Homo sapiens: one gene and its partners. The protein of the gene in region 7 purifies or fractionates together with the protein of the main gene of each other region. This does not show direct contact. Each region holds a gene or a part of one and is shown on either strand. Other genes may lie near its edges. The genes, in order: RHBDF2, HCLS1, FNTB, PIGA, PDZD8, VANGL2 and KCNS3.

Region 1 (3,500 bases), on a different chromosome or scaffold from region 7:
CAATCAGTTGGGGGGGGGTCCCGAAGAGAGGTGGCCTGACACCAGACAGCAGAGACAGGGCCAGGGCGGGTGGGCATGTCTTCCTGGGCAGGAGCCTGGCATCGGGAGTGCCATCTGAACCGCAGAGCACAAGAGGCCTGGGCAGCGGCCTGAGAGCAGCTCCACCCTCTGGCCTCAGTTCCCTTCTCTGAGGGAATGGGACAAGGTCACGGCCCAGCTTTGACACCCATGAAGCCTAAACATGGAGTATGGAAGCATGACTTTGCACCAGCCACTTTCCACCATTGAGATCAACTGCCTCCAACTCGTGCAGAAGTTGGGGTGGGGGTGCAAAGGCCCAGCCCCTTCCTTGGGGCTCAGCGGGGAAAGGAGTGGGGACTGTCAGACCCACTCTGGCCTTCCTCATGGCTCAAGTCCAGATGGCAGGAACCAGACAGAAAAAAGCGCTGGAGAGCTGGAGCTACCCCACCCAGCACTTATCTCCGAGCCCTAGAGATGCTTGCTCACTGCAGGGGAAATGGTGACATCCTGGGACCAGGCTTCCTCCTGGCCCGCAGTCACATCCGCCGCTCTCTCTCTAAGACCCCCAGGCCCGCCTCCGCACCCAGCCCACAGGCGGAACACTGCCACCTGCCCAGCCAGATCCTGGCCTCACTGTGGCCAACCCCAGAGAAGGGCCTTCAGCCCCAGCCCAGCTGGGAGATGCCAAAGAGACCTGGGGAGAGGGACTGGGGCTTAGGGTGGGACAGACTCTATTTCCTCCTCCTTTAGGGTGGGGCGGGGGAAATCCTGAAAAAAAGTGAAGTGCAGAGTTCAGATCACCCCCAGGTCCCATGGGTTGAGGCCTCTGTACCCTCCCCTGCCCAGGCTCAGGGCCTCCCCCACTGCAGATAGCTTTGGAGACAGCATAACCCAGCTGGCAGCAGCGGACCTCAGACACATCCAACGAAACACAGACTCAGACACCATTTACCACTGCTGCCCAGAGAATCTGGTTTCCCCACAAAGGGTGAGGCCAGGCACTCCCAACCAAGCCTGTTCCGCACAGCTGGGTAAGCAAGGCCACCCCCAGGGAGGTCCCCAACAGCTCTACCAGCCAGTCCAGGCAGGGTACAAGGGTCCCCCCGCCATGCGGACTGTACAAGCCACACTCCTCCACGCGGGCCCAGCCCACTGCCCCTCCCAACTCCCCCAGGTGCAGTTCCCTCTCTCCACCTGGTGCCACCAATCTCCCTGCACTCCCCACCCCCACACAAGTGGGTTTCTAGAAGCTCTGAGTCTTGCTAATGAAGGGTGCAGTCCCCACAAGCCCTGGGCTCTATGGGCTTTATGGGGCAGGGCAGGGAGAGCGTGACAGGTGCAGCCCAGAGGGAAACAGGCAGAGGCTTGATGCAAGGGCTGAGCCTGCGTGTGGCCAGAAATGGGGACACAGGGGTGGGACGGGACAGGCCCTTGGATAAGAAGTAAGCAGCCCCCTCCCCTCCAGACAGGAAAGAGGGAGACCATTATTATCCACTGGATATGACCAGGAAGTTTAGGGGGCTCAAGCCATCTGAAGACAGGATGTGGGGAAACCACCCCCTGGGCGGGAAGCTGCTTCCAGCCTGGCTCCGGAGCCGCGGGTGGGCGAGGCGTCACCTGGTGTCCCTGGGAGTGGGCAGTCAGGACAGAAGGAGGGCGGTGGGAGGCTTGGGGCCACGTCTTCGCGGCTGAATCACAGGATGCTAGGGTGAGGGCTGGGGACAAGGAAACTGCTTCTCTCCCCAGCTCCCTTGCCACAGAAACTGAAACTCATTTTCCCTGCCTGTGGCCCTGCTGGGAACCAGGGCATTTTTAGAAAGCTGCAAAGAGGAAGCTGAGCCTCACCCACTGTGCAATCCCCAGCAAAACCCGTGGTACTGCTGACCCCGGGGTTTCTCCAGCCCCAGAGGCCCGGAAGGACAGCTCATGGCACAGCTGTTCTTACACCTCCCCATGCATCCCCAAGCTGGGCCTCACGTAGCCAGTGACGCTGCCCTGGCAAGAGGTAGAAGGGGCAAGAGTAAAGGGCAGGAAAGTGGCAAGAAGGCTGGCTGGGGGCCTGGGGGCAGAATTTGGGGAGAGTCATGAGAGGCAAAACAGAAGGGCAGGGTTGGCATGAGCTGCGGCGTGAGCTCCACCGGCAGAGTTAGCAGAGGGGAGAGGGGGCTGGGGACTCTGAGGGTGGGACACCCAGCTGTCTGTCTCCAGGAGCCAAACAGGAGCCACTCTCCCTCCCTCTCAGCACCACCTCCCCAGAGGCCGGAGCTGGTGGCAAGTGGGCGCAGACACGATCTCAACCCACTCCGCCGGTACACGCTTCAGCCCACAGCTGCTGATGGAGAGAAACAAAACGGCCTGTGGGTTCACACAGCTCCCCAGACATCCCACGAACAGCGGGTCCTGGCCCAGAGAGCTGTTTCTTTCTCCTCCTCGCCCCTCCAGGGCTTGCCTCGAACTCAGTTCAGAAGATCAAGAACCCCCAGGGGCAGCTTCAGGGGACTGACCATCCCCTGACTTCTCTGGGCTTTTTCCTATCCGGCCCCAGGCTCTGGGCTCCCCTTAACCCGGTTAGAGTGGCTGGGGCGTCATAAGCCAACCACAGACACGGGAAGCGGGTGCTGTGCTCCAGGGAGCCGCCAAGATCAGGGGTGTGAGGTGTGAACCTGTGTGTGTGTGTTGCGGGGGGCTGGGGGGTGACATGTCATGTTCTTAGGGTGGTGCAGCCCCTGACGCCCCCTCTGCACCAACCATCTGGGCTTTCTCAGGACCAGTTGCCAGCAGGGATGGCAGAGATACAAATGCCCCCTCCTCGGCTGGGGTTCCTGGTCCAGGAAGCAGGCTGAGCTGGGGGTGCTGGAGTCCTGCATCCCCGAAGCCCAATGTGCAGCAGCTGCTGGCAAGACACAGGGGTGGGCACCAAAGGAGGTGGCAGTGCAGCCAGGCCTCGAGCTGGACACAGCGCTGGGCCCCACCCACCACAGTGCCCTCCCCTGGAAATTTCTGGATTTCAAAAGCTGCTGGTGGAGGCTGGGCACAGTGGCTCACACCTGTAATCCCAGCACTTTGGGAGGCTGAGGTGGGCAGATCACCTGAGGTCAGGAGTTCTAGACTAGCCTGGCCAACATGGTGAAACCCCATCTCTACTAAAAATACAAAAATTAGCCAGGCATGGTGGCGGGTGCCTGTAATCCCAGCTACTGAGGAGGCTGAGGCAGAAGAATCGCTTGAACCTGGGAGGCGGAGGTTGAAGTGAGCCGAGATCACGCCACTGCACTCCAGCCTGGGCGACAGAGCAAGACTCCATCTCAAAAAACACACAGACAAAATAAAACAAAGCTGCTGATGGAGGCAGGCAAGTGGCAGCAGCTGGGCGGGGATGCAGGTGCCTTCCACATCCCAGGGAAGAGGCAGCAGCTCCCGAGCCTGGGGCTGGACTGCAGGCTTTGGGGCAATGAAGGGAAGGGGGCACGCACAGCAGC
Region 2 (3,500 bases), on a different chromosome or scaffold from region 7:
CAGGAAGAAAGAGATGGAGTCAGGGCCCAAAGCATCCCATGGCTATGGAGGTCGGTTTGGAGTAGAAAGAGACCGAATGGACAAGGTAAGTTGAAAGGGAAAGATTTGCTTTAAAAAAATACAAGCCGGGTGCGGTGGCTCACGCCTGTAATCCCAGCACTTTGGAAGGCCAAGGTGGGTGGATCATGAGGTTAGGAGATCGAGACCATCCTGGCTAACACGGTGAAACCCCATCTCTACTAAAAATACAAAAAATTAGCCGTGCGTCGTGGTGGGTGCCTGTAGTCCCAGCTACTCAGGAGGCTGAGGCAGGAGAATGGCGTGAACCTGGGAGGCAGAGCTTGCAGTGAGCCGAGATCATGCCACTGCACTCCAGCCTGGGAGACAGAGCGAGACTCTGTCTCAAAAAAAAAAAAAATAAATAAAATAAATAAATAATACATTAAAAAATTGATATATATACTTATATATTTTGTAAATATGTATAATTATATACTTATATATAATTATATACCTCTATAATAAGAGCCAACTATATATAAGTATATATAATTGACTCTATAATAAATAATTGGCTCTATAATAATTGGCTATAAAATAATTGGCTCTATAAGAGCCAATTATATGTAAGTATATAATTATATAAGTATATATTTATTATATATACTTATATATTTTATATATGTTATAAATATAATATAATGTATATTATATTTTATATATTATATATAAGTGTATATATATTATAAGTATATATAATATAATATATACTTATAATATATAATATATAATAAGTATATATATTAATATATATTATATATATTAATATATGTAATAAATATATATTAATATATATAATATATACTTATATACTTATATATAACAGATACTATATATAAGTATATATAATATATAATATATCTATATTATATATTATATATCATATATAATATATAATCTACATTATTAATACATTATATTACATATTATTACTATGTAATATATTACATAGTAATATATTACATAGTAATAATATGTAATATAATGTAATATATTATATACTATAATTAATATATAATATATATTATATTATATAAGTATATAAAATATAATACATAAAATATAATATATATTATATATTTTTATTTATAAATATATATAAAATATATATAAATATATAAAATATATAAAAATATAAATAATATATTTAATATTATATTATTATATATTAATTATAAGATATATTATATATATACTTATATATAGTATCTGTTATATATAAGTATATATTATATATAAGTATATAATTAATATATTATATATTAATACAAGTATATAATTAATATATTATATATTAATACATTATATATTATATACTTATATAATTATTTATAAATATATTTATAAATATATATTATTAATATATGTTACATAATTATAAGTAAATGTAAATATATAAATTTATATTATGTATATTTTAATATATTATAATTATATGATATAACATATTTATATTATAAATATATAGTTTATTCATAAATATATAGTATATAATATTTAAGTATATTTAAAAATTTTGCTAAAACACCCAGATACTTTTGTTCTAGATCAAAATATATATTTTTTGACTCATTCATTGGTTCATGAGTTAAAACTCATTCAAAAGTACAGTAGTCATTTGGTCTAAAATATAATGTCCACATATTATTTGTATCAAATTTTTCTGATCTCAACACATAAGATATACATGGCAGAAAATAAGAACCAAGATATTAGAACTGCTGGCCTGTTGTAGCCCCAACCACATTGTAACTCCTAGACCAAGAAGACAGGGAGCACAAGTGGAGAAGGAAAAAATATGTTTTAAAATTATTTGCTGCATTTAAATGTTTATGTATTATGTCTATGTTGCAACTTCTCTTTATTATTTTATTTACTGTGTATTTAGTGATTTTTTTTGTATACATGTCCTACATTACATGGTGTATAAAGCTCAGAGTTCACTTCTGAACTTTGATGGCCATACAGGAGCAAAGATCTAGAACAAAATCATTGGCTCTCCTAGTGAAATATTCCATCCCGGCTATGGCGTCCGGTCAGTCCCCTTGGTCTCTCCTCCACACTACCCCACACTACACTCTGTTCTGCTGCACAATGCTCTTGTTTCAGCTCTTTTTGTTTCTGGTTTAAACACTGCTCTGTCTACCTTGTCTCTATCCCCTGGTTCCCAGCCCATCCTATGGGAGTGTTCAGAATGAAGGATTCCTAATGGTATTAGAGAAGAACAGGGATGAGCAGGTCTCCAGAAAAAGTCATCTTGCTCTCCCATCGCGTATTCCTTGGCACCACTGTCAGAGGCTATAGATCTGACCCAGAATGGAATTTCTTACATGCCTACATCCCACTCCATATCTGTATTTATTTTTTTAAGGTCATTTTTATCTTTTCACTCACTCCATCCTTGATTTTTCTCAGAGTGCAGTGGGCCATGAGTATGTTGCCGAGGTGGAGAAGCACTCTTCTCAGACGGATGCTGCCAAAGGCTTTGGGGGCAAGTACGGAGTTGAGAGGGACAGGGCAGACAAGGTAAGTGACCACTCTCTCTCCCAACCACCCACCTCCAGTCCTGTGAAAATTGCCCACGATCACCCCTGGATGGAGGCACATGCTTCTTTGTTGAAAGACAGGACAGTGGATGCTGTGAGGACCTGACACCGTCACAGGGATACCTCCCTCAGCAAGTTCCTTGGTGCCAATGTTGGAAGCCACATGCTGAGCTGAAAGACAGTGATTCAAATAGGAGAAGACTCTCAAACTGTGTGTTTGAATGAATAATTCCTCAAGCCACTGGTTTTTATTATACTCATATGCATGAAGATAGAACAGAGAATCATCTAAGCTCTTCTTTTGGCTTAACATCAAAACCTTATAAATACTCATGCCGTTTAGGAAAACAGATTCATCAGTTTAAATATTATTGCCATAGCAGCAGATAATCAAGTTAAACAACTAATTAGGGTTACTATTTACAGAATTTAGCATCAATCTATGAAGTCCAGATATCTTTAAAGACTCCTTTGTACAAAACAAAACAAAATGTTGTTTTAAAGAGAAAAAAAAGTACCGTATGATTACAGCATCATATCGTTGACAGGAGAGTAAGATTGATAACTCATCGATGTTTTTAGTTCCACGCCTTATTAGGTCGGATTCTTTGAACTCATTTTTTATGGTGCAGAATGGTGTCTCCTGCCCTGCAGCTGCACACAGAGAGAGGACAGCTCCTTCACAGTTAGCTGAGATTTTTTCTTTGTTTTTACCAACAGTTGTTAATTAGGTGGACATGCATCCTTAAAGCTAAGGATTGGAAGCTAAGGCAGCTAAGTTCTAGAAAATTAATTGTTTGCATCATGGGGGGTAAAACCATGAAAAACAAAATCAGGAAAGTTTAAAACATACTGCAAAGCTAAGGGAAGATGTAGAAGGCAATAGTGAAATAT
Region 3 (3,500 bases), on a different chromosome or scaffold from region 7:
CCTTGGGATAGAGGGGATAGGGTGTGTCAGGAATGGGTGGGGTGGGAGCAGGGGAGGTCTTCATATAAGGTGTTAAGGGGAACCCTCTGGTGACAACACATGTGATCTGAGACCTGAAGTCTCAGATGAGGGAGGAAGCCATCATGGATCTGGTGCAAGAGTATTCTGGGCAGAGAAAGCAGCAAGCACAAAGGACCAAGGCAGCAGAATGCCAGGTGAGCAGGGGGCTTAGCAAACCAGAGAGTAGGAGATGGGTCGGATCATGTAGGGTCTCATTGGCCTTTGGAAGTACTTTAAAATACCCTGACTGAGATGGAGAGCCACTTGGCTGTATACCTGCCATTTACTGCCCCAGATTCACTTGGCCCTTTTCTAGCCTGCTCTGTAGATGTGCCCCAGGAGGGGGCCCTGCACTGACAGGTTGCCTTGCTTTATGGCTGCGGGCCATGGGAAGTATTGCTGGGGGTGACCGAGAAGGAGAAGAATGAGACCACTGTATTTCTTCCCTCCTGCAGGCTTGTGTGGGGTGGGGTTTCCTTAGACTTAAGGTCACATTTCCTGTCATGTGCCTTCTCTGCGGAGCTCTTTGTCTCCCTCCCTCTCCATCCTTCACACCTTCAGGTCTATGAGGAGTTCAGGTACCCCTGATTTACCAGCTCCAGATACTGCATTTTCTCTTGTGGTTTCCCTACACCTGCCCACATCTTTGTAAATAGTTCCTTTATAAACTCTCCTCAAATCACCCACTTTGTGCCATCTGTTTCCTGCCAGGACTTAGACTGATCCATGATCAGAGAGTTTTGAGCAGGGGAGTGACACAGTCTGACTAGCATTTTAACAGGCTCATTTAGGTTACTGTCAAGAGTAGATGGTGGGGAGTGAGGGTGGATACAGGGAAACCAGTTAGGAGGCTATTGCAGTATCCTGGGAGAGAGGTGACGGTGGCTTAGCTCACAGTGACGGTAGTGGAGGTAATGAGAAATGGTCAGCTCTGGATATTTTTATGAAGGTCTCTACCTTGCTAAGCTGTTTTGTTAATGCAGATGCAGGGAGGGCCTTTCATGACACTAGAGAACAAGACATGGTTGTATTGTTAGTGCCTGCCTTCCTTATTGTGCCATCTGGAATCATCCCATTGCAGACACTCTGATTCAGGCCAGTAGGTTAATACTGATAGTCTCAGAGGTAGCAGCCTTGCCAAAAACAGGTGTTTACAAAAGATACTACTGTTTTTCTTTGAGTTTGTCTTTGAACAGAGGCAAACGCGTCCTCCACTTTAAATGGCATGGTGTCATTGAACCATTGGCATGGTTCATTGTCAATGAAGTGACTTGAACTCTGAGGGGAATATAAGAGAATTATTAGTCTTGATCCCTGCCCTCAAAATTCTTTTATCTTAGAGAGATAAAAAAGAATATGCTGTAAGGCCGAGTGCGGTGGCTCACTCCTGTAATCCCAGCACTTTGGGAGGCTGAGGCTGGCGGATCACTGGAGGTCAGGAGTTTGAGACCAGCCTAGCCAACATGGTGAAACCTCATCTCTACTAAAAAAATACAAAAATTAGCTAGGCGTGGTGGTGTGCACCTGTAATACCAGCTACTCAGGACACTGAGGCAGGTGAATCTCTTTAACCTGGGAGGCGGAGGTTGCAGTGAGCCGAGATTGCACCATTGCACTCAAGCCTGGGTGACAGAGCAAGACTCCATCTCAAAAAAGAAAAAAATAAGAAGAATATGCTATAGGCAGTCACAGAGTGCTAAATTATAACTGCTTTGCACGAGGATTTTGGGGAGTTGAAAAGCCATCTGTGTGGGCTGAGGTGGTCAGGATGACTTCATGGAGAACGTGGAACTGGGTGGGCTGTAAAAAATAGAGTTTGGGGCAGCCATTCAAGGAGGGAGAGCTGTTTTGAGGGAAGACTCAGGCTTGACTGGGGGCGTTAAGATGGCTTACCAGGAACGGAGGGTGCAGGTTGGATGTGGTAGGAAATGAGGTGAGCTGGGCGGGTGGGCCCCTATCAGGGTATTAAGAGGCAGGTGATGTGCTGGCTTCAGGTTCGGGCAGTGGGCCACCACATATCCTAAGGAGGGACCAGCGGAACAGAATCCTGACCTGCTGTTGACTTATTTCAGCTTATAGGATCCAAAATATTAGTAAATGGAGGTGGAACAAATCACTAAATATGATAAAACTTCCCAACTTTTTATGCCTCTGATAGAAGGGACTGGAGCTCTGCTTGGTTAGGTGGTCAGTAGGCTAGCTTTCTGAATCCATTTTATTTTATTGAAATTCAGCATATACCATATTGCCCAAGTGTAAAGTAATCCTGCATATCAAAATTTCCCCATTAAAAAGTCCAAAAGGTTGTTTTTGGTCAAGTTGAAAATACATGTACTTTTAGGTATATAAGTGAAAAATACCTGCTTACAAAATTTACATTTAAATTTGGGTCCATATACCTACTTAAAATCACCTACTTTATAAAGTAACACTAATTTAGAAATGCTGGTTTTCCTCCTCTTCTTATTTATAAAATGTTTCTTTTCAGACTCTTCACATGCATCTTTGACTTCACTATTTTTATCATCACTGGAGCCACTTTTTGAGTCAGCCAATGTGGATTTCCGGACCACATGTTCAGTTCTTGAGATACATCGTTTTTGAATATGAATAAGGTGTTACCACTGAACAGTTTATTCCAAGTTACAAGTATCCACTTGCATAACATTAGACTTTTTTTTTAAGAAAGGGTCTCACTTTGTCGCCCAGGCTGGAGTGCGGTGATGCAATCACCACTCACTGTAGCCTTGACCTCACAGGCCTGCCTTGGCCTACCAAAGTGTTGGGATTACAGACGTGAGCCTAGAATTTTTTTTTTGCAGTGTTTCCAGTTGGTATATATTTGTGGTCACTGCAACTTAACCACTTTATTACTTTTTCAAATGATTTCTATTTTTTTTTAAAGACAGGGTCTCACTCTGTTTCCCAGGCTGGAGTGCAGTGGCATGATCATGGCTCACTGTAGCAACTTTCCAGGCTCAAGTGATCCTTCCACCTCAGCCTCTTGACTAGCTGGAACTACTGGCGTGCGCTACCATGTTCGGCTACTTTTTATATTTTTTTGTAGAGACAGGGTTTCCCTGTGTTGCCCAGGCTGGTCCCGAACTCGAGCTATCCGCCCACCTTGGACTCCCAAAGTACAGGCATGAGCCACCGCGCCCAGCTAAAATGATCTTTAAAACGTTGGTCTACTGGCCAGGCATGGTGACTGATGCCTGTAATCCTGGCACTTTGGAAGGCCAAGTGGGTGGATAGCTTGAGCCCACAAATTCGAGACAGCCTGGGCAACAGGGTGAGACTCCATCTCTAAAAAAAGTAAAAAATGAATAAACAAAATAAAAAGCTGGCCTTACAATGGCAGTTTACACATGGAAGTGTGAGTTTATATCTCCAGGGATAATTACTAAATTTGTGTTTAATTTATCTTGTTTCACTGATTA
Region 4 (3,500 bases), on a different chromosome or scaffold from region 7:
AACTGAACAAATTTCTTAACCCCTTTAAGCTTTAGACTTTCCATTTATAAGATGGAGTTGATAACTCATGGAGTTTTGGTGAGGCTGCAATAAGATATAGAAGAGTCTTAGCATGTAGTAGCTGATGTATAGTGGCCATTTAATAAGTATTAATAGAAGCTGGTAAAGTATAAGAGTAAAGGGGAAATATATAAATGTGTGTATGTATGTGTGTATATATACTTAATTATTGGAAGAGACTGGTTTGTTAACGTGGTAAACCATGATATGCTGTGGTGTAACAAACTTACTATTTAAAGTTACATGTAGCAGTATTTTTAGGGCAAAATTAAGACATGGTAGAACCTAGTTTTGTTGTATGTAAATGCCAAGCAAGTAAATGTCAAATGAGTAAATTGATGATTTGCTTTATTTTTAATTCTGGGGAAAGCTAACAAATTTACATTAACATTAAAACAATATCTATATCTGGATTTGTAATATGGAATGTGTTTTGTTTCTGAGCTGAGATCCTGTTTTACTCTTTTTCAGGTAATAGAGGACACATCTCTTAACTGGGTTGCTCTAAGAACTGATGTCTAAACCGTCTCAGCATGGCCTGTAGAGGAGGAGCTGGGAATGGCCACCGTGCCTCAGCTACACTCTCTCGGGTTAGCCCTGGAAGTCTTTACACATGTAGAACCCGTACCCATAATATATGCATGGTATCTGACTTTTTCTACCCAAATATGGGAGGCGTGGAAAGCCACATTTACCAGCTCTCTCAGTGCCTGATTGAAAGAGGGCATAAGGTTATAATTGTCACCCATGCTTATGGAAATCGAAAAGGCATCCGTTACCTCACCAGTGGCCTCAAAGTCTATTACTTGCCTCTGAAAGTCATGTACAACCAGTCTACAGCCACGACCCTCTTTCACAGTCTGCCATTGCTCAGGTACATATTTGTTCGGGAGAGAGTCACGATAATCCATTCACATAGTTCTTTTTCTGCTATGGCCCATGATGCTCTCTTCCACGCCAAGACAATGGGGCTTCAGACAGTCTTCACGGACCATTCCCTTTTTGGATTTGCTGATGTCAGCTCGGTGCTTACAAACAAGCTTCTAACCGTGTCTCTTTGTGATACAAACCACATCATTTGTGTGTCTTATACTAGTAAGGAAAATACTGTACTAAGAGCAGCACTGAATCCTGAAATAGTGTCCGTCATTCCTAATGCTGTAGATCCTACTGACTTCACTCCAGACCCATTTAGAAGGCATGATAGTATAACTATTGTTGTTGTCAGCAGACTTGTTTACAGAAAAGGTAATGAAATGATAGCTATAATTGCATTGTAGACTTTTTTCCCTATAGAAAGCTGTTGAATACTTGTATATAATGATTGTTTGGCTTTTCATTTTGTTTTATGGTTTTATAATGCTATAAATTATAGCAAAGAAAGTTCTAATATTGGTTTATATATCCAAGAAGAGCGATTTTTCAGGATGGTGGTGAATGCTGTCCCCCAACCTTTGATGTTTTAATGGTTACTAAAAATAAGAATAACCTGATGCTGTTAAATTTCAGATCTTTTTAAAAATTAAAACAGCCCTGCACATGTGGTAAAGAAGTAGAGGGCAGGCCGTGTACGGTGGCTCACACCTGTAATCTCAGCACTTTGGGAGGCTGAGGCAGGCAGATCACGGGGTCAGGAGGTTGAGACCATCCTGGCTAACATGGTGAAACCCTGTCTCAACTAAAAATACAAAAAATTAGCTGGGCATGGTGGCAGGCTCCTGTAGTCCCAGCTACTCCGGAGGCTGAGGCAGGAGAATGGCATGAACCTGGGAGGCGGAGCTTGCAGTGAGCAGAGATCGTGCCACTGCACTCCAGCCTGGGCGACATAACGAGACTCCGTCTCTAAAGAAAAAAAAAAGAAGTAAAGGGCAGAGCTCACAGATGGCTTTTTTCTTCTGATTGCCAAAGTAATGTCTTTTCATTGCAGATATTTTGGAAACTAAGAAAAGCACAAAGATGAAAACTAAAATCAGCTGTAACTGTATTATTCAGAGATACCCTAATGAGTATTTTGATTTATAGCTTTCCTGTCTTTTTTATGTGTACGTACATATACTGAAAATCAGTGGGCTTGCTCTGCACGTTACTGTATTGTAGCTTGCTTGTTTCATTTCATCATGTATAAGACATTAGTAACATATTGGCAGGTAAGTGATGAAGAAAAGGGGATTAGATGTCCTGGGATCAGATGATGGGTCTGTCCTGCTGTGTGATCGAGGACAAGTAGCTTAACATCTCTAAGTCTCAGTTTTTTCATTTGTGTAATGTAAGCAACATTGGGAACCTCGCAAGGGTTCAGTGATAGTTCCTATAAACTATTAGCCTAGTTTGTAACTGTCCACTATTATCAAGGAGGTTTTTGGGTTTTTTTTTTTTGAGACGGAGTCTCGCACTGTCACCCCCCGGGCTGGAGTGCAGTGACGTGATCTCAGCTCACTGCAACCTCTGCCTCCCAGGTTCAAGCGATTCTCCTGCCTCAGCCTCCCAAGTAGCTGGGATTACAGGCGCCCACCACCAAGCCCAGCTAATTTTTTGTATTTTTAGTAGAGACAAGGTTTCACTATGTTGGCCAGGCTGGTCTCAAACTCCTGACCTCGTGATCCACCTGCCCCGGCCTCCCAAAATGCTGGGATTAACAGGCGTGAGCCACTGCACCTGGCCAAGGAGGCTGTTTTTTGTACCTCTACAGCACTTAATGGACACTGCAGTTGAATGTGTGGAGGCTTGTTTACTAAAAGTCTGACACAGTCTGGTTATAAAAAACAGTGTCTTCTGAGTGCTATTTGAAAACCTGTCCACTAATCAAAAGTGTCATTTATAGTAGGGAATCATTAAAAAAAATACATAAATACATACCCCCTTAAATAGTTAATATTTGAATTAAACTCAAAATATTAATACACACTGAGTTGCCCGTAGTTTGATGTAGGATTGCAGGCTTTGAGTGCTGGGCCACTGGTTTCAGCTGCATCTTGCACACCCTCCTTCATAAAACATAATCTACCATTGCTACTTTGAGTTTCTTTTGGGTGGGGTCAGAACTTAAAGGCGTATGAACTGATATGCTTCAGGAGTTTTAATTTGTTTTCAATTTTATACAGTAGTTTAGGACACCCCTCATCTGCCAAGAACTTTTTTCTGTGACATTCCTTTATTGGATTTTTCAAACTGTTCAGCTTAGTTTTTGTGGATACTCTTTTTGTCAGTTTATATGATAATTAAATTACTCAACACGACGATAACAAGTACAACTGACATCAAACAGATGTGTGAACAAACAATTGATTCTTGACAAGCACTGAATTCAGTGGTGTGCCAGTGTGCTAGGGAGTGGCCTAAAATCTAGATGTGGGCCTTGGTCAGTTTACGTTTGGAATGGAGAATCTTGATTGACCCAGCAGTCCATTTAAGTGGAGGTTGGCAAGGAAACTTGGCCTGAA
Region 5 (3,500 bases), on a different chromosome or scaffold from region 7:
TTAAAAGAATGTATTTTGCCATTGTTGAGTATAATGTTCTATAAGTGTCAGTTAAATCAAGGTTGATGATGTTGAGGTTGCCTGTGCCTCCACTTCTTTTTTCTAGTTATATTGGTTGCTGAGAGGATGAAGAAACCAAGTTTTACCTCTAACAGCAGCTTTAGTAAAGTTACATTGCAAAGAGACATGCTTATAAGAATAGGAGGAATTTGTTACCATGTTTTATGGTCTACCACTGAGTTCATTTTCAGTCTTTTTTGGGTTTTGTTGGTGGTGGTGGGTTTTTTTTGTTTTTGAGGCAGGGTCTAGCTCTGTTGCCCAGGCTGGACTGTAGTGGTGCAGTCATGGCTCAATGCAACCTCCACCTTCCCAGCTCAAGTGATCAAATCAGGATAACTAGCATAGCCATCACCGCAAACATTTCTTTGTGGTGAAAATATTAAAAATAATCTCTTCCAGCTATTTTGGAATATACAATACATTATTAACTATAGTTACCCTATTGTGCAATAGAACATCAGAACTTATACCTCCTAACTGTAACTTTTTATAGCCACTTCTGATCTCCCCACTCCCCCTATTCTCCCCAGCCTCTGGTAACCACTCTTCTACGTCTATTTCTATGAGATCAAGTTTTTTAGATTCCACATATGAGTGAGATCATACAGTATTTGTCCTTCTCTGCCTGGCTTATTTCACTTAACATAATGTCCTCTGGGTTCATCCATGTTGTCATAAATGACTTTTCTCTGGGGTTTTGTTTTTTGTGGCTGAATAGTATTCCACTGTGTTTGTATACCGCACATTTTTTATCCATTTATCCATTGATGGACTCTTAGGTTGATTCCATAGCTTGGCTCTTGTGAATAGTACTGCAGTAATCAAGGAAGTGCAAGTATATCTTCATCATACCAATTTCATTTTCTTTGACTATATACCCAATAGTGGGATTATTGGATCATTGCTAGTTCTATTTTTAAATTTTTGAGGAACCACTGTACTGTTTTTCATAATAGCTGTAACTAATCTACTTTCCCACTAACAGTGTATAGGAGTTCCTCTTCTTCCACATCCTTGTCAATATTTGTTTTTTTGTTTTTTTTTTTTTTTTTTGTCTTTTTGGTAATAGCCATTTATTTGGTAATATGTGTCTTCTCTCTTGTTTCTTGATCAGTTTAGCCTATAGGCTTACCAGTTTTATTGGTCATTTTATTGAGTCAGCTTTTATTGATTTCTCTATTATTTAAGTATCTGTTCCATTGGTTTCTGTTCTTTATTATTTCTTTGCTTCTACTTTGGGGTTTAATTTCTTAAAATGGGGACTTAGGTCACTAATTTTAGATTTTCCCCCCTATATAAGCATTTAAAACTATAAATTTCCTCTAAAACACTACTTTAGTTGCATCCCACAAATTCTGATTGGTTGCATTTTCATCATTTCATTTGAAATATTTTTGGATTTCTCTTGTGATTTTTCTTTAACTCATGAATTATTTAGAAGTGTGTTGTTTTGCTCTCCAGATATTTGGGGTTTTCCTAGTTACTAATTTGTAATTTAATTCCACTATGGTCAGAAAACATGCTTTGTAAGAGTTCTGTCTTTTTAAAATTACTGATATTTGTTTCATGACCTTCTACATCCTGGTGAACTTACCATGTACACTTGAAAAGAATGTATTTTGCCATTGTTGAGTATAATGTTCTATAAGTGTCAGTTAAATCAAGGTTGATGATGTTGAGGTTGCCTGTGCCTCCACTTATTTTTTTCTAGTTATATTGGTTGCTGAGAGAGGGATGAAGAAACCAAGTTATACCTCTAGCAGCAGCTTTAGTAAAGTTACATTGCAAAGAGATATGCTTATAAGGATAGGAGGAATTTGTTACCATGTTTTATGGTCTACCACTGAGTTGATTTTACTGTTCTCTGTACTTTTGTATATATTGGAAATTTTCTGTAATAAAATCTTAAAAGCCAAACCCTCTCAGGTGATATTATATTCCAGGGAATGCATGTTGAAGCCACAGCATGCTTCACCATGTACAGGAAAAATATTTAGGGTTTCTATTTATGTTTGTTTTTTACATTGTCATTTTAAAAGTTCTATTTTGGCATATGTTTTATAGTGCCAGGCATATCCAATAGTCATAAATAATTTTAAGATATAGATGCATACATATGGGAGAGAATTATATATTATATATCATTGTACTATTCTGGTTTTAAAATAGTAGTTTTACCCTAGTGGAAAATCAGTTTTGTTCCAAAAGTTGTGTATCATTGCATGGTCTTGAACCTTATCTTAAATTTTATATTAAAATAACAATGTTTTTGTGAAATACTCATTTTAAAATGCTTTGTTTCACCAGGCTTTTAATTAAGAGGTGTTTTTATATTCTGAAACTTCTGAATCATGTCAGAACTTAATTAAGGTGATGATTTTCATTTCAGGGAATGCTGAAATTAAAATCTAAAATTAGGTCAGTGGGGTGCAGGCTTAAAAGGAAACAAAAACCAGCTTGTAAAAGAAACAGTGTCTTATGTTCTGTTCCCTGTACATACTTGAAATTAAGAGTATTTACTAATAATCAGTAAAAATTGGGGAGAAAGTGAGGTAATGTAATATTGGCCCTAATTATTGCTACTGAAAACCTTATCTTTTTTTTTTTTTGCATCTGGAATGTTTACTTCAGGTATCATTTGAATTAAGAAAAGCAAAGGGAAAGATATGATTTATAGATAGAAAATAAATTAAGAAACTAAATTACACTAACACCTTACACTAGCCTCTATTCACTTCCTAATCCTACCCCCTGAATCTCCATTCTACTTTTAAAAGCAGAGTAAATAACAAAAAAAAAAAACACATTCCAAATGCAGGTGTTAATTTTTAAACTTTACAGTACTCAGACTTACACTGTTTAGGTTTTCTACCCATTTGCTATCATTAGCTTCCTGCAATTAGAAAAACTTACATTCTAAATTTCAGCTTTGGCAATCTGTATATTAAGAATATATTTATGTTCCTGGATTTGAGAGAATATGTTGTTAAGGGTTTTGTTAAAAGCCTTAATTGTGTACAGCACTTTACATTGTAAGGTGATTAATTGCTGTGTCATAAGGCAGGGATTGGACAAATGTCTTAGGAGATTTAAACACAAATTACGTGTTTTGGCGGGGCTTTGTGTTTTGTAAACCTTTAGGTAATTCAGAATTTGACCACATATCCCATTTCTTGAGCACAGTATGATTAAGATTTTCCTTAAAATAACTTTACAAAATTTGTTAACACCCAAATTAAAGAGCAACTTCCAGTGAGGGTTCTTTTACCAGCGAATATCATTAGGTAGGAAAATTGAATTTCTGTCCAAGTGGGATTTATATATTAAAGCAGTGCAGCCAGTGATATATTTGGATATTAGGGTATTTGGCAAAGTCCCTCATGAGATATCCTTGAAGAATAGGACTTAAGAAATGTGGACTGGAGAATAATACAATTAGA
Region 6 (3,500 bases), on a different chromosome or scaffold from region 7:
AATGTTGGTGGTCAAATCAACAGGACCTAATGAGCGGGAAGGGAGAGTTAAGAATCCCCGGCCTGAGCAAGGGAGCAGATGGTAGCACCATCAGTAGGGTAGGGAAGACTGGGGAGGAAGCAGCCTTGTGAGGGAAGATAATTAGTTCAGCTTCTAGCCTGCTAAGTTAGTGGCCATGAGACAGTAGGCAGCCAGGTGTCAGACGAGCCAGACTTGGAGGACAGTCTGAGCTGGAGGTACTGAGTGTGTGAAAAGCTATGGGGATAGATAGAACTCAGATCCAGCTGAGTTCAAAACCTAACTCTTCCATGGACATAAAGGACCCCAATAGGTAGACATGTCCAGAGGAAAAGGAGCAGGCAAAGGGGATGAGAAGGCCAGAGGAGGAGGGGAGCCAGAAGAGTGGGGTCTCAAGGCAGCCAGAAATTTAACAGTGTTTTGAGGTGGGAATTAAGTCAACCAGGTCAAATGCTGCTGAGAGGCTGATTATGTTAAAAACTAAAATGGGGCCGGGTAATCCCAGCCTGTAATCCCAGCACTTTAGGAGGCCAAGGCGGGTGGATCACGAGGTCAGGAGTTCAAGACCAGCCTGGCCAAGATGATGAAACCCCGTCTCTACTAAAAAGCATGGTGGCAGGTGCCTGTAATCCCAGCTACTTAGGAGGCTGAGGCAGAGAACTGCTTGAACCTGGGAGGTGGAGGTTGCAGTGAGCCGAGATCATGCCACTACACTCCAGCCTGGGCGACAGAACGAGACTCCGTCTCAAAAAAAAAAAAAACCTAAAATGGATTTGCTTTGTATCATTACCTTTACTCCAACTACTCTAAACCATCAGTAATTTGAGAATAAGCAATATGATTGATACATATTTATATCCATCTCGCCTCCCATGGGCACAGAGCAAGGAACTGATACCAACCTAGTAAATGAACATAGTCATGCCTCGCTTAACCACAGGGATACTTTCTGAGAAATGTGTCATTAGGCAGCTGCATCCTGGGAACATCATAGAATGTACCTACACAAACCTTGACGGTATAGCCTACTACACACATAGGCCTTATGGTATAGCCTATTGCTCCCAGGCTACAAACCTGTACAGCATGTTACTGTACTGAACACTGTAGCCAACTGTAACACAATGGTAAGTACTTGTGTACCTAAACATAGAAAAAGTACAGTAAAAATACAATAGTATAATTTTATGGGACCACCATCATATATGTGGTCCATCGTTGACCAAAACATCCATGACTGTATGCCTCTCTGGCTCTCAGGGAAACTATAATGACTGTAGGGAGATGAAAGCATGTGAAATCTATTCATTCATCTTCTTAACAGAGTTCAATGGAGGCAATCCTCCATAGGATTAGTTATATTTGTCAGTATCCCCATGTCAAAGCACGTGCGTGATAAGGACACACTTAGAGGACAGGGACATAATACCTTAACCCAACCATAAGCCTTTCCAAAAAACTTTGCAGCAAAAATGACCCTTATTTATCCCCCTACCTGAAAAATATATGTTGGGCTCATCTACCCACTCTCCTGAGGACCCATTCTACTGGCCTACTCCTCCTTATAGTTTAGACATCTGACCTGCATTTCTCTTGTGGTTCCAGCCTATTCTTTCTAGTCTTCTTCATAAAAACTGAATTTTGCTAGGAGGCTCAAAGGCAACGAGTGGGTCACAGAGTGACATGGGGGTAGAGAAGGGGGTGGAGAAGTAAACAACTGCCACGGACTAGAGTCTAGACACACACACTAGATCCCAGGCTGTCCATCTCCTCATCCTCCTGTATACCCATCATCTGCCAAAGCCAACAGCCAGAAGAGCCAGAGATGTGCACTCAAAGATCTGAGTTCAAAACCTAACTCTTCCACTGACTAGCTGTGTGACTATGTGCAAGTTACTTAACACCTCTGTGCTTGTAGCCTGGTAAGCTCATTAGTAAAATAGTGAAGACAATGATGCCTTTTCATGGGGTAGCCGTAAGGATCACGAGGGTGAAAGAAGTGCTTTTATAAATGGTTCAGCTAGTAATTAGTTAAGCAATTAACAAGTTTTAGCTCCAGGATCACTCATACTCCAATCCTCAGACACTTCCTCTGAGACTAGGGAAAGAGGTGGTATAAATAAACCCTGCTGTTAGTACAACTAAATAAAGAAGTCTCACACATACACACACACACACACACCAACCAGAACCACCACTTCAAACACACCCAGAAGGTAAACTGATGCCATTTCATTTCCCCTACAGATAAATTTCAAACCAGACAAGGGTACCAGTCCCCTTTTGTTCTGAGCTGCCCAGCCTAGTGCCCCCTATCTTCCTCCCCTGCTACTTACTAAAGACTCAACATGAATCCTGCTCCCCTGGCCTGCCAACCCAAGTCAGAGTGCCCAAAAAGCACCAAAACACGCTTGTCTCCTCCCTACCAAACACAGGTGCCAAAAATGAACCCGACTTCTGAGACCCTTGCCTGCTGTGTCTTCAAGTACACCAGGGAACTAATCCAAGCACTGCTGCTGGGGGGCCTGGGAGGAGGGAGGAGAGGGGAGTAAAGAGAAGGGCAGAAGTTCCCCTTATTTAATCAGTCTCAGGGATCAGGGGTTTGGAGGGTCCCCTGGGTGGGCAGCGTTCCCAGGGAAGAGATGGGGGGAGGGGATGGCTGGATGAGATCAACAAGTGGAAACGTCAAGAGGGATGACGAGACAGGGAGGGAAGTCCGGACTTGGTGCAGGACAGGGAGCTGCCCTAGTCTGGGGAAGGGGGAGGCTATAGAAAAGGAATGTGCCCCACTGCCTTTCACCTTGCCCCCCACTTCCCAAGACACAAACACACACACTCAGTCCCCTGCTCAAACCAACCATGGATTATCTGGGGTTAAAATGAGGCCAGGGAGGAGAGAGGGAGAGAAGAGAGAGCCTGTTACAAAAAGGAGACCCTTCTCCCCTCCAAAGGCCTTTCAGAAATAAAATTAATGGAATGTGTCTCAGTATCATCCCAAGGGGATTGGGGGGGAGCTTGGCAGGGGGGAATGTGGGGGCTTTTGTCCCTGCTGCCCAGCTTCTCCCACATTGATCACCATGGCAACAAAAGCCCCCTGTTGCCTAGGTGATGGCAGCCGGGTCCTGGAACCCATACCCAGCATCCAAAGGGAGGGAGGTTATGGAGGTGGGGGCAATAGGGACAGAGGAGGAGAGAATGGGGTTTCTCCTCTGGCGGCCCCAGCTTTTGTCTGAGCTCTGGGATCAGGTTTCTTCAGGAAACAATTGGAGGCCTCTGGAAAAAATACACTCAGAACCTGGCAACAGGCAGAGGGAGCAGGGCCCTAGAGTAGTGCGTGCGTGCGTGCGTGTGTGTGTGTGTGTGTGTGTGTATAAGGGGGGTGGGTGTTGGCCAAAACACAGACCAGGGCGGACCAACCCTTTCCCATTTCCCACTCAAAGGAGGCGGCTCAAGTGGGCAAGGCGTTGAACACAAACGCCAGC
Region 7 (3,500 bases):
TTCTATCCCTTGCAGTCTGACTGCAGAGCCACTGTGAGATTCAGTTTTCCTCATTTATTCCTACAGTTCCAACACTGTTCCCTGTGCTTAGTGGGATCTCGGACTACATTTGTTGAACAGTGACAGAGGGGGCTTACAGTTACCAAGTGACTTTTGGGTCCCATGTCTCAGCCTTAAAAGGAATCTCAAAGACTGCGTTAGCAAAATATTATTTTTGCCTTTGACAAAATGGTCTGCTTTTCGGTGAAATTCTGCCCAGCTGGTTAGGAAAAAAGGAAGATAAACCATAAAGATCATGGGCCAGGGAAACATTATGGTGAGTTTCAGAAAATGTGTTTATCAATATAAGAAATTCAGAAAAACCACAGAACACTTTGTACTCCGACGCAAATTTGTCAAGTAAATCAACCAGTGACCAATTCACAAGTGCTTATTGTATGGGTGCTAAGTGCCCAGTACTACAGGCAATGAAGGTAGGCAGAATCTATGACATGGTCTCTGAGCTTGAACTTATAGTGGATCTGGAGACTCCAGATCAGTGAGACAAGATAGAACAATACAAGATGCTAAATGTTTAAGTCCTGATAAAAATCACAATGACTCGGTCACATTTGTATAACCTATTGTGGTTTGTAGGAACTTTCACATGGGATATCTCATTCCAGTCCTCAGAGCAACTGAGAGTTATAAGCTATAGGTGGGACAGAAGTTAGGAAGCCCATATTGCTGATGAAGAAATTAAGGCAAACTGAGCCTTGAACTTGGACACAGTCAGGGGTCTTCTGACTTTAAGTCCAGCATCTTTCTGCCTCACTTCTCTCTGGAGCTAGAGAGCAGAACAGGAGGGAGTGAGCTATCGAGAGTCCTTGGGGAGTGGGGAACTGAGTTTGAATTTCATCCTGGACCTGGCCTTTGCTTGCTGGTCTTGACTACTGTGGGTGCTTATTGGAGGCAGGGGATGGGGAGTAAGTACAAGCTGGGGAGGAGGAGAAAGAGGAGAAGAGTGTTGTTGTTTTATTGTTTCAGGGGCCTGCTGTTTTGTGAAGCCTGGAGTGAATACTCAATTATCATGAACATAATAACAAGGCTTAAAATGTACAACAAAATGTAGAAACTGATTTAGAATTTTCATCCCTGTTTTTCTTTATCATTTCTCTAGATCATCTTTTGAAACTTTTTAGCATATCTGCACATTATACTTTTTTTTCACAGTTGTTAAGAGGATCAAAATCTACACATTATAAAAGTAAACTCTTTAATAAGCTAAAATAGTTACTAGGCTAGGTTGTGGTATTTTTCTTGTGGGCAAGAGGTCTCATTCTCTTTGGAATCCTGCACAGCCTTGCACTACGATTTGCTTTGAGGAGATACTGTATAAATATTGTCTTCAGTTGCACAAGTATTGAACGATAAAGGCATAAGATCTGCTTTTAGCCAATAATGTTACAGTTAAGCAGTTAATGTTGGCAGCAGCCAGCCTCAGTGAGTTTGGTGAAGTGCCAAATGAATGAAGTATCTTGCTGAGTATTCTACTAATCAGCCATCCGAGGACTTACCAGATGCTCACCAAAGGTGACATAATGATTAACTTATATAGTCACATATATGTATTCTCATTATATATTCAAATCCGTGCATACATTCATTCAACAAGTATTTGAGTACTTACATGATGTTATGTACTATGCTAGGTGCTGGGTATACTGTGGTAAAGGAAACGGTGGGGGGTTGGGGTGGGGTGGGGTGGGGTGAGAAGTGGGAGGGAGACAGGCATTAAACAAACCAATGCAAAATTTAAGTAGTGGTAAGTTCTCTAAAGGACTTCATGGGAGAGAGTAACAAGGGTAGGGAGGCACTAGTTTAGATGAGAGGGTCAGAGAAGACCTTTCTGAGGAAGAGACATTTCATTTTGAGTGATAAAAGGAGTCCATTAAGTGAAGAGTGGGAGAAAGATAATTCCAGGCTGAGGATTCTAAGGCAGGAATGAGCATTGAGCCTCTTTTTGTTCTATGCAGGAACTTCAAGAGAACAAGGGTGGGAACAGCTGGGAGGAGGTTGTAGAAGAGGGCTGGGGTCATCCCATTACTGGGTATATACCCAAAGGATTATAAATCATGCTGCTATAAAGACACCTGCACACGTATGTTTATTGCGGCACTATTCACAATAGCAAAGACTTGGAAACAACCCAAATGTCCAACAATGATAGACTGGATTAAGAAAATGTGGCACGTATACACCGTGGAATACTATGCAGCCATAAAAAAGGATGAGTTTATGTCCTTTGTAGGGACATAGATGAAGCTGGAAACCATCATTCTCAGCAAACTATCGCAAGGACAAAAAACCAAACACTGCATGTTCTCACTCATAGGTGGGAATTGAACAATGAGAACACTTGGACACAGGAAGGGGAACATCACACACCAGGGCCTGTTGTGGGGTGGGGGGAGGGGGGAGGGATAGCATTAGGAGATATACCTAATGTAAATAACGAGTTAGTGGGTGCAGCACACCAACATGGCACATGTATACATATGTAACAAACCTGCACGTTGTGCACATGTACCCTAGAACTTAAAGTATAATTAAAAAAAAAAAAATATATATATATATATATATATATATATATATATATTTAAAAAGAAGAGGGCTGGGGTCAGATCAAGCTGTGCCCTTTAGGTCAAGTTCAAGGTCTTATGGTTTATTCTGAGGGCTGTGAAAAATGGATTTGCAGAAGGTGAGTGTCACAAGCCAATTTAAATTTATACAAGATTGCCTGGGAAGGCTGTGAAGAACAGATAGAAGAATAGACTGAAGAGGTACAAGCATGGGAAGCAGAAGCCTCGTTTGGAGGTGTGTTGTGTGTTGCAGAAGTGGAACCTAAAGTGAGATTGGCCTGGGTTGAAAGATGAATGGAGGTGAGGAAGTGCAGACCATACACATAAAGCTTGGTTGTGAAAGGGAGCAGAGAGACAGGATGGGTGTAGGGGCAGGTTTGTGTCTATGTGGAAGGCAACCTTGGCTGAGGTTAGGGATGTGAGTCCAGCTCGTTGGTAAATTAACAGATATATACCTCTGTGTATAGAGTTATAGCACTTCTAGAACATTAGACATTTGAATCCTATCTCTGGCTTTATCTCAAAATCTAGGTAACTTTAAGCATATCACTTTGAGTACTTCTAGAAGATTAGACATTTGAATCCTAGCTTTGGTTCTGTCGCCAAATCTGGGTAACTGAGCATATTGCTTGTCCTTCCCTGTTGTTTTTTTTTTTTTTTTTTCCTCACTGCCTGGTGATTTTATAATTTTTTTAAAAATGCAGTCTTCCTGCAATGTTCTTTAATAGCATTATTTATATGTGTTAATGTGGGTTATTTTTTATAAATTGAATTAGCAGAACTATGAATGGGGATGTAGGAACATTTGTGGTAGGATTCTAAGCATTTGCTCATTGTTGATCATGGATAAGCTGCTTTCAAATTAGCTTAAATAGAGAG

The links.
Region 1: the proteins of KCNS3 (region 7) and RHBDF2 purify together in Homo sapiens (affinity purification with mass spectrometry; 2 studies listed by BioGRID and IntAct, with this or other methods). This does not show direct contact.
Region 2: the proteins of KCNS3 (region 7) and HCLS1 purify together in Homo sapiens (affinity purification with mass spectrometry; one large-scale study listed by BioGRID and IntAct). This does not show direct contact.
Region 3: the proteins of KCNS3 (region 7) and FNTB purify together in Homo sapiens (affinity purification with mass spectrometry, with the first as the bait; 2 studies listed by BioGRID). This does not show direct contact.
Region 4: the proteins of KCNS3 (region 7) and PIGA purify together in Homo sapiens (affinity purification with mass spectrometry; 2 studies listed by BioGRID and IntAct, with this or other methods). This does not show direct contact.
Region 5: the proteins of KCNS3 (region 7) and PDZD8 purify together in Homo sapiens (affinity purification with mass spectrometry; 2 studies listed by BioGRID and IntAct, with this or other methods). This does not show direct contact.
Region 6: the proteins of KCNS3 (region 7) and VANGL2 purify together in Homo sapiens (affinity purification with mass spectrometry; 2 studies listed by BioGRID and IntAct, with this or other methods). This does not show direct contact.

What each region holds. Positions count from the first base shown.
Region 1 is NC_000017.11:76,491,424-76,494,923, forward strand, and holds part of RHBDF2 (inactive rhomboid protein 2), read right to left. Parts: intron 1,732-3,500; exon of another isoform or gene 1,639-1,731; intron 1-1,638. UniProt on the Homo sapiens protein: Regulates ADAM17 protease, a sheddase of the epidermal growth factor (EGF) receptor ligands and TNF, thereby plays a role in sleep, cell survival, proliferation, migration and inflammation. Does not exhibit any protease activity on its own.
Region 2 is NC_000003.12:121,643,904-121,647,403, reverse strand, and holds part of HCLS1 (hematopoietic lineage cell-specific protein), read left to right. Parts: coding exon 1-85; intron 86-2,475; coding exon 2,476-2,586; intron 2,587-3,500. UniProt on the Homo sapiens protein: Substrate of the antigen receptor-coupled tyrosine kinase. Plays a role in antigen receptor signaling for both clonal expansion and deletion in lymphoid cells. May also be involved in the regulation of gene expression.
Region 3 is NC_000014.9:64,989,895-64,993,394, forward strand, and holds part of FNTB (protein farnesyltransferase subunit beta), read left to right. Parts: intron 1-3,500. UniProt on the Homo sapiens protein: Essential subunit of the farnesyltransferase complex. Catalyzes the transfer of a farnesyl moiety from farnesyl diphosphate to a cysteine at the fourth position from the C-terminus of several proteins having the C-terminal sequence Cys-aliphatic-aliphatic-X.
Region 4 is NC_000023.11:15,329,024-15,332,523, reverse strand, and holds part of PIGA (phosphatidylinositol N-acetylglucosaminyltransferase subunit A), read left to right. Parts: intron 1-531; 5' UTR 532-593; coding exon 594-1,308; intron 1,309-1,876; exon of another isoform or gene 1,877-3,500. UniProt on the Homo sapiens protein: Catalytic subunit of the glycosylphosphatidylinositol-N-acetylglucosaminyltransferase (GPI-GnT) complex that catalyzes the transfer of N-acetylglucosamine from UDP-N-acetylglucosamine to phosphatidylinositol and participates in the first step of GPI biosynthesis.
Region 5 is NC_000010.11:117,291,941-117,295,440, reverse strand, and holds part of PDZD8 (PDZ domain-containing protein 8), read left to right. Parts: exon of another isoform or gene 1-1,977; intron 1,978-3,500. UniProt on the Homo sapiens protein: Molecular tethering protein that connects endoplasmic reticulum and mitochondria membranes. PDZD8-dependent endoplasmic reticulum-mitochondria membrane tethering is essential for endoplasmic reticulum-mitochondria Ca(2+) transfer.
Region 6 is NC_000001.11:160,410,564-160,414,063, reverse strand, and holds part of VANGL2 (vang-like protein 2), read right to left. Parts: intron 1-3,500. UniProt on the Homo sapiens protein: Involved in the control of early morphogenesis and patterning of both axial midline structures and the development of neural plate. Plays a role in the regulation of planar cell polarity, particularly in the orientation of stereociliary bundles in the cochlea.
Region 7 is NC_000002.12:17,881,667-17,885,166, forward strand, and holds part of KCNS3 (delayed-rectifier potassium channel regulatory subunit KCNS3), read left to right. Parts: intron 1-3,500. UniProt on the Homo sapiens protein: Potassium channel regulatory subunit that modulates the delayed rectifier potassium channel activity of KCNB1 by namely slowing down the deactivation and inactivation time constants.